Homo sapiens: one gene and its partner. The protein of the gene in region 2 interacts with the protein of the main gene of each other region in a biochemical or structural test. Each region holds a gene or a part of one and is shown on either strand. Other genes may lie near its edges.

The links. The genes of interacting proteins can lie anywhere in the genome.
Region 1: the proteins of PEX19 (region 2) and ABCD1 form a complex in vitro, tested with the Homo sapiens proteins (3 studies listed by BioGRID and IntAct, with this or other methods).

Annotation. Positions count from the first base shown.
Region 1 is NC_000023.11:153,723,160-153,726,903, forward strand, and holds the start of ABCD1 (ATP-binding cassette sub-family D member 1), read left to right. Parts: upstream 1-1,696; 5' UTR 1,697-2,107; coding exon 2,108-3,007; intron 3,008-3,744. Other genes in the region: BCAP31 (B-cell receptor-associated protein 31), read right to left, coding at 1-129, 349-505. UniProt on the Homo sapiens protein: ATP-dependent transporter of the ATP-binding cassette (ABC) family involved in the transport of very long chain fatty acid (VLCFA)-CoA from the cytosol to the peroxisome lumen.
Region 2 is NC_000001.11:160,278,459-160,282,202, forward strand, and holds part of PEX19 (peroxisomal biogenesis factor 19), read right to left. Parts: intron 3,743-3,744; coding exon 3,581-3,742; intron 1,789-3,580; coding exon 1,612-1,788; intron 1,388-1,611; coding exon 1,343-1,387; intron 1,177-1,342; coding exon 1,093-1,176; 3' UTR 1-1,092. UniProt on the Homo sapiens protein: Necessary for early peroxisomal biogenesis. Acts both as a cytosolic chaperone and as an import receptor for peroxisomal membrane proteins (PMPs).

The DNA of each region.
Region 1 (3,744 bases), on a different chromosome or scaffold from region 2:
GAGAAATGAAGGGAATGCAGAGAAGCAACACAACAAAGACCTCCGCATAGAGGAAGGTGGCAACTGCAGTCCACTGCAGACTCATCCTGTTGCTAGAAGGTTTCCCACAGGAAGATGTGAGCTTGTTTCCTGGCAGGGCACAAAAGGTACGGGACTTGTAAGCGCTGGGCAGCCAAGAACATCCAGTTCAGTTACCCTGCGAGGCTGGGGCCGCCACTCTCCACCCTGACCCCCTGCACTTTGCTTCAAAGTCTCTGATGCGCTGGCGGAAGCAGGGCTCCACTCGGCAGGGCCTCTTGGCCAGCAGCGTTCACAGGCCCCACAAACTTCCGTTCGCTGGTCAATTACCTGCCCCCTCCAGCACGTGTGTCAACACGTCCAGAGCGGCCTCTCCCGACGATCCCTGCCCCAGGAAGCCCGAGATTTCCGACGCCCGTTTAACTGAAAGGCGTTCTTCGGGAAGAGCAGTGCCAGGGCACCAAGAGGAGGACGCCTCGGCACCCATCGGGCGCTCCCTTCCCCGCCAGGCAGAACTCAGCCGCAGAGGCGGGCGCTCTGCGGGCCCAAATCCCCGCTACCAGGCAGGCCCAAGGCCGCACCTAGTCCAAGCGCTGCCGACGCCCCCGCCTCCCACCGTCCCCACGGCGCCCGCGGAGAGAAACCGGCACCTCCCTCGAGGATCCAGCGGCCTTCCGCCCGGGGCCGCTTCGCCTCCGGTGGGCTGGAGGCCCGCAAGAGCGACTCCTAGAGGGCAGGATTCGGGACCAAGCGCAAAGGCAGGTCTCGACCAAGCACCTCAAGGCCCCATACGGAGAAAGTTCTAGACGCAGTATCCTCAGAAGCCAGGGGTCCTTACAGTAGCCCTCGCGGGCCCCAGCGCCCACCCAGAGCGAGGGGCCTCCGACTTGGCCCCGGCCTGGCACACCGTCCCGGAGGCCCATCCCGGCCGCTCCTCCAGGTGGGGCTTCACCGCCCCCCGCCCCGCCCCCGAGACCAGCTTCTAGAGGCGCCGCCCGGTTTCCCCTCGCCCCTGCCTCTCACACGCAGGTAGGCTGCGGGCCCCGAGATTCCCCGGCCCCCGGGCCTCCCCGCGCCGCTCGCCTCTCTCCCTCGTCGATGGGCCGGGGAGCCTCCGCGGTCCCGGAGCCCAGCCCGGCGCGCGGAGCCCGCTCACCGAGTTTCCCACAGTCAACGTGCAGGCCCCGCCGCAGCAACAGAACTCTCCCACAGCAGCCCCGGCCCCGCCCCTCATACCGCGGCCGGAAACCGGAAGCGCCCGCCGGGCACCGCCCACCAGCCCTCGCGAGGCCCCGGAGGCTCCGCCCACCTCCGCTTCCCACCCCGCCCCGGAGCGGAGGGCCGGCGCTCCGAGCGGGAGAGGAAGAGGCGCCTCGGGCTCCGGGCGAGCAGGGCGGGGTGGAGCGAGCACGCGGGCGGGGCGGGGCGGGGCTTTGTCGGGCCGGCGAGGGCCGCTTCTCTAGTCCGCGCGGCCGTCCCACGTCTCTGTGGTGCGGGAGGGGCCCCGCCGAGGGGCGAGAACGGGAGGTGGGGGTGTGGGCGGGCCCCGCCGAGGGGCGAGAACAGGGTGGGGCTCCCGCGCCCGGACTCCGCCCCTCGCCCCTCCTCCGCCTCCTCCCCTTCCCCCGACTCGCCCCTGGGGAAGAGTGGGTGGGGATTCTGGGCCGGTGGAGGAGTCACTGTCGCTTCAGCCAGGCTGCGGAGCGGACGGACGCGCCTGGTGCCCCGGGGAGGGGCGCCACCGGGGGAGGAGGAGGAGGAGAAGGTGGAGAGGAAGAGACGCCCCCTCTGCCCGAGACCTCTCAAGGCCCTGACCTCAGGGGCCAGGGCACTGACAGGACAGGAGAGCCAAGTTCCTCCACTTGGGCTGCCCGAAGAGGCCGCGACCCTGGAGGGCCCTGAGCCCACCGCACCAGGGGCCCCAGCACCACCCCGGGGGCCTAAAGCGACAGTCTCAGGGGCCATCGCAAGGTTTCCAGTTGCCTAGACAACAGGCCCAGGGTCAGAGCAACAATCCTTCCAGCCACCTGCCTCAACTGCTGCCCCAGGCACCAGCCCCAGTCCCTACGCGGCAGCCAGCCCAGGTGACATGCCGGTGCTCTCCAGGCCCCGGCCCTGGCGGGGGAACACGCTGAAGCGCACGGCCGTGCTCCTGGCCCTCGCGGCCTATGGAGCCCACAAAGTCTACCCCTTGGTGCGCCAGTGCCTGGCCCCGGCCAGGGGTCTTCAGGCGCCCGCCGGGGAGCCCACGCAGGAGGCCTCCGGGGTCGCGGCGGCCAAAGCTGGCATGAACCGGGTATTCCTGCAGCGGCTCCTGTGGCTCCTGCGGCTGCTGTTCCCCCGGGTCCTGTGCCGGGAGACGGGGCTGCTGGCCCTGCACTCGGCCGCCTTGGTGAGCCGCACCTTCCTGTCGGTGTATGTGGCCCGCCTGGACGGAAGGCTGGCCCGCTGCATCGTCCGCAAGGACCCGCGGGCTTTTGGCTGGCAGCTGCTGCAGTGGCTCCTCATCGCCCTCCCTGCTACCTTCGTCAACAGTGCCATCCGTTACCTGGAGGGCCAACTGGCCCTGTCGTTCCGCAGCCGTCTGGTGGCCCACGCCTACCGCCTCTACTTCTCCCAGCAGACCTACTACCGGGTCAGCAACATGGACGGGCGGCTTCGCAACCCTGACCAGTCTCTGACGGAGGACGTGGTGGCCTTTGCGGCCTCTGTGGCCCACCTCTACTCCAACCTGACCAAGCCACTCCTGGACGTGGCTGTGACTTCCTACACCCTGCTTCGGGCGGCCCGCTCCCGTGGAGCCGGCACAGCCTGGCCCTCGGCCATCGCCGGCCTCGTGGTGTTCCTCACGGCCAACGTGCTGCGGGCCTTCTCGCCCAAGTTCGGGGAGCTGGTGGCAGAGGAGGCGCGGCGGAAGGGGGAGCTGCGCTACATGCACTCGCGTGTGGTGGCCAACTCGGAGGAGATCGCCTTCTATGGGGGCCATGAGGTGGGGCAGGTTGGGGTGCCGGGCACGGAGGGAAGCGTGTGGCAGGGAGGCCCGGGGGCAGGCAGCCGTGAGCGGTGGGGACAGTCTGGGGCGGGCCGGGGCTGATGCCAAAGGTGTGGGCAGGCCATGGGAGAGCCGGGCTGGGGTGGGCAGGGCCTTTGGGCAGCCGTGGACTCAGGCGCGGCAGTGGAGAGGCAGGAAGGCTGGGTGGGGACTGTCCTGTGCTGGTTGCCTGCACGCTCGAGGCCACTTCTGCTTCCTCTCCTCCTCAAGGAGGTTGTCCTGGCCTTAGAGCTGCGATCCTAGCGGTTTGAGCCTCGAGAGCTCCTGCCCGCCCCACTCCTGCAGCCAGCCAGGAGGAGACGCCTGCCATTCATGAGCGGGGACCGAGGGACGCAGCCTGCTGCCTAGCCCCTCCTGGGCCCTTGGGCCCTTTGAAGGCCGGCGTCCAGCAGAGCTGGCTGGCCAGGCAGGCCGGCATTATGGGCATGACTCAGCCCAAGCGGAGGTTAATGAGCAGCGCCCAGCACAGCAGTGGGACTTGGGGTCAAGGCCACCCCCGCCTGAGCCCACAGGCCTGCCTGGCTACCAACTGGCTCAGCTGCCTTCCCGGGCCCCCAGACCAGAGATGCCGGGCCCAGGCCGCCACTGCGGCGGGACACACTTCCTGCTCCTGGCGTGGCTGTCCTTCCAACCCTGTCTGTCTCCTGGCTCCCTGGTGGGCCGGGGCCGGCGGG
Region 2 (3,744 bases):
AAGATCAGAAAAAGACCACACTCCTCACTCAGAATATTTATTATATTCTGCCCCATGGGGCCTTGCAGGAAAAGGGACCCAAGCTATACCCCTACTCCTTTTCCAAGCTACTTTCCTGAACCAAGGGACAGGATTCTAAGAGAATCATGTATCTCAAATAAGCCAGAATGTATCTGGGGAAGAATAGCCATTAATTTCCTAGACCTGACACTGGGTTTATTTGTGTCTGCCAGGAAGACGGGGAGTCAGTGAGAATCGTAAATGGACTAGATGAGGGGAAATAGGATGGGCCCTTCTTTATCACAGCTTGAGCTCAAAAAGGTTGGGATAAACAGGTGTTTAAAAAAGAGAGGAGGTAAAAGGGAGGATGGGCAGGGGATAGAGGAAGGTCAGGGGCTGGGTTCACCCATATCACACAGCATTGTAGGAAGAAGCAGGGTAACCATTTGAGTTCTCAGCCTGGAACAGGGAGGTGAGGGCTCAGCACCTAGAGAGAGGAGAATCCTAAGGCCTCTCTTTCAACTCTATTGTGATTAGATGCAAAAGCCCTTTCCCTTTAGAGAATTCAGAATGGTCTGTCTGAAGGCAAGAGAGCATAGTGACAGACCTGTAGCCCCAGCCCAGGCTGTTTCTCCCCATTCTCAAAGGCTCTGCCAGGAGAACTATAGAAATACAGAGTCCCAGGTCTCTGCCCCTCCTCCCCAGATCCAAGAGAGGGAGTAGAGACAAGGCACAAAGACCCTGGACGTAAAGGTGAACATCAGTGTGGCCACATATAACATTATTTTGAGAAAGGAAAGAAAGTGCATGCCCCAAAAGGGATGCCTTCCTTCACCTTGCAGGTAGCTGGAACTTTGATAGTGGCAGAAACCACAATGGAGTAGGGTTCACAGAAATGGCCTGTGAAACAGACCCTATTCCTAGAGAGACAGAGGAAAAACCTCAGCTGGTATGGCACAATCTTGAATGGGATGACAGAGGGCAGCGGGCAGACTTCTCCCGCAGGTGACACTCCTGCCTCAGGTCCCAATGGTTCTGCTGACTCCAGATGTTCCCCATAGCTGGGACTCAGAGAGGAAAACGTGTTGTGTTTCACATGATCAGACACTGTTCACCACTGGCACCTGGTGGGCCCGAAAGATTGAGGGCATCCAGGTCAAAGTTGAGGCCAGGAGGCTGGGGAAGAGATGAAGGGACTCAGATAGTTGCTCATTTTTTAGGACAGACGTGAAGATCCATCCCCAGTAGCCACAATTTTCACCTTAGGTGGAATCCTGAGAGGTTAAAGAATTCTGGAAATTGGGGACTCAAATTAAAATCTGGAAAAATAAGACATACTCACCATCTCTCCAGCCAGCTCTTTTGGAGGATGGCCTAAATCTTGTAGCTAGAAAATAAGGAAAATGGAACATGAAATAGAGAAAAGCCCAGAAAACAACAGAGGATCCAGAAGAGGAATCTAATGAATGATCTCTCTATTTCTTCTGAGAGAGATCACAAGAGAGGATCCCTCCTCCACCTAGGTCTAGCAGTATTGCATCCTTCCCAGATACTTCCTTCACTGAACACCTAAGTGGACAGCACCAGTGGGCAGAAGGCAAGAGGCCTTACCTGCTGCATAAGATCCAGCACCATCTCAAAACGAGCCTTTTGAGTGGTTTCACTGTCTGTGGGGGTCTCTGCCTCAAACTGCTCACATATTTTGCACATGACGCTGTGCTGCTCCTGATATTTTTCAAACTGCTCTGGAGGTAGAGATTCCCGATGACTCTGCAACCATTCTGGATACTAAGAAAAGAGAGAATGGGTGGAAAAGAATTAAGTGAACAATGGATATGGATGGGTAATCAGAACAATGTGATTAAAATGTGAAAGGGAAAGGGACGTAGAAAAACGAAAAGCTAAATAAGTAAGTTCATCATGAAAAGCGGCACTGACTCCAACCAGATCACCTGGCCATGTTAGCATTTATGGTCACCAGAGATTGGTAAGCTTCTGTAAAGGGCCAGACAGTGAATATTTTAGGCTTCAAGGGCCACATATGGTCTCTATTGTGTTTTTTTTTTCTTTTTTTTCGAGACAGAGTTTTACTCTGTCACCCAGGCTGGAGTGTGATGGTGTGATCACCACTCACTGCAGCCTCGATCTCCCCAGGCTCAAGCAATCCTCCCACCTGAGCCTCCCCAAGTAGCTGGGTCTACAAGTGTGCACCACTGTGACTGGCTAATTTTTTTGTATTTTGTAGAGACAGGGTTTCATCATGTTGCTCAAGCTGGTCTTAAACTCCTGGGCTCAAGCAATCTGTCCACCGTGGCCTCCCAAAGCGCTGGGACTATAGGAGTGAGCCACTACGCTCGGCTATTGCACATTTTCTTTGTAGTTTTTTTCAAATGACCTTAAAAATGTAAAAACCATTATTTGCTAGAGAGTTGGATTTGTCCCACCCAGGTCTTGGCCTGCTGACTCGTGGTCTGTACTATTCATTACACACTTACCCACATTTCCCCATGTCACTGAAAAGCTTCTATTCCTGTATTTTATCTCTCCAGTAAAACTATACACTCTTTAGCCAGGTGTGGTGGCTCACACTTGTAATCCCAGCATTTTGGGAGGCTGAGGTGGGAGGATCACTTGAGCTCAGGAGTTTGAGACCAGCCTGAGCAATATAGTGAGAGCTCAACTCTACAAAAAATTTTGAAAACATTGGCCAAGCATGGTGGCACACACCTGTAGTCCCAGCCACTCAGGAGGCTGAGATGGGAGAAACACTTGAGCCTGGGATGGGGAGGCTGTGGTGAGCCAAGATCGTGCCACTGTGCTCCAACTGGAGCTAGACCCTGTCTCAAAACAAAATGATACAACCACACATATAAGCTCTTTTATGGCAGGGACCATCATTTAAACTACGCTTACACTGTTCACATCACAAAGCCAGTAAGTAAATCCTCAGTTAATTCTTTTTCTTTTTCAGATGGAGTCTTGCTCTGTCACCCAGGCCGGAGTACAGTGGCACAATCTCAGCTCACTGCAACCTCTGCCTCCCAGGTTCAAGTGATTCTCCTGCTGCCTCCTGAGTAGTTGCGATCACAGGCGTGAGCCACTACGCCAGGATAATTTTTGTATTTTTACTACAGACGGGGTTTCACCATGTTGGCCAGGCTGGTCTCGAACTCCTGACCTCAGGTGATCCACCCGCCTCGGCCTCCCAAGGTGCTGGGATTACAGGCATGAGCCACCATGCCCAGCCAAATTCTTGCTGGAGAAATGAAGTCAGAAATGCAAGATTGATCAGACAACAATCCCAGAGTCTTGAACCAGTTTATAGAAAACTAGAACTGAAGGATTTCCTCTTAGACCCCAAACGTTATACCTCTTATACCCCAACATACCGTGTGACAGCTTTATTCTCTCAGAGACACAACTCTCCCCAACCCCCAACTCTCCCTGCCTCAAATAAATAAAGAAGGAAAAAAAGCACACTCGAGTTACTCTTTCTGCAGGCTCTGAGTAGACAAAATAGCCCACATCAGTTGATGTGATGGAAAATGAAGAGAAAAAGCAGAAATGGAAGTTCACAAACCTTTTCTGTGATCTCCTTCAGTGATGGGTACAGCACATCCTTGGAGAGTAGGTTCTGCATAATACTCTGCATGATGGGGAGGATGTTCCCTTCCCCATCCCCTTCGTCCATGCCTAGCCCCTCCATGGCCTTGGTCAGCTCTTCTTCCGACATGCTGGAGTTCT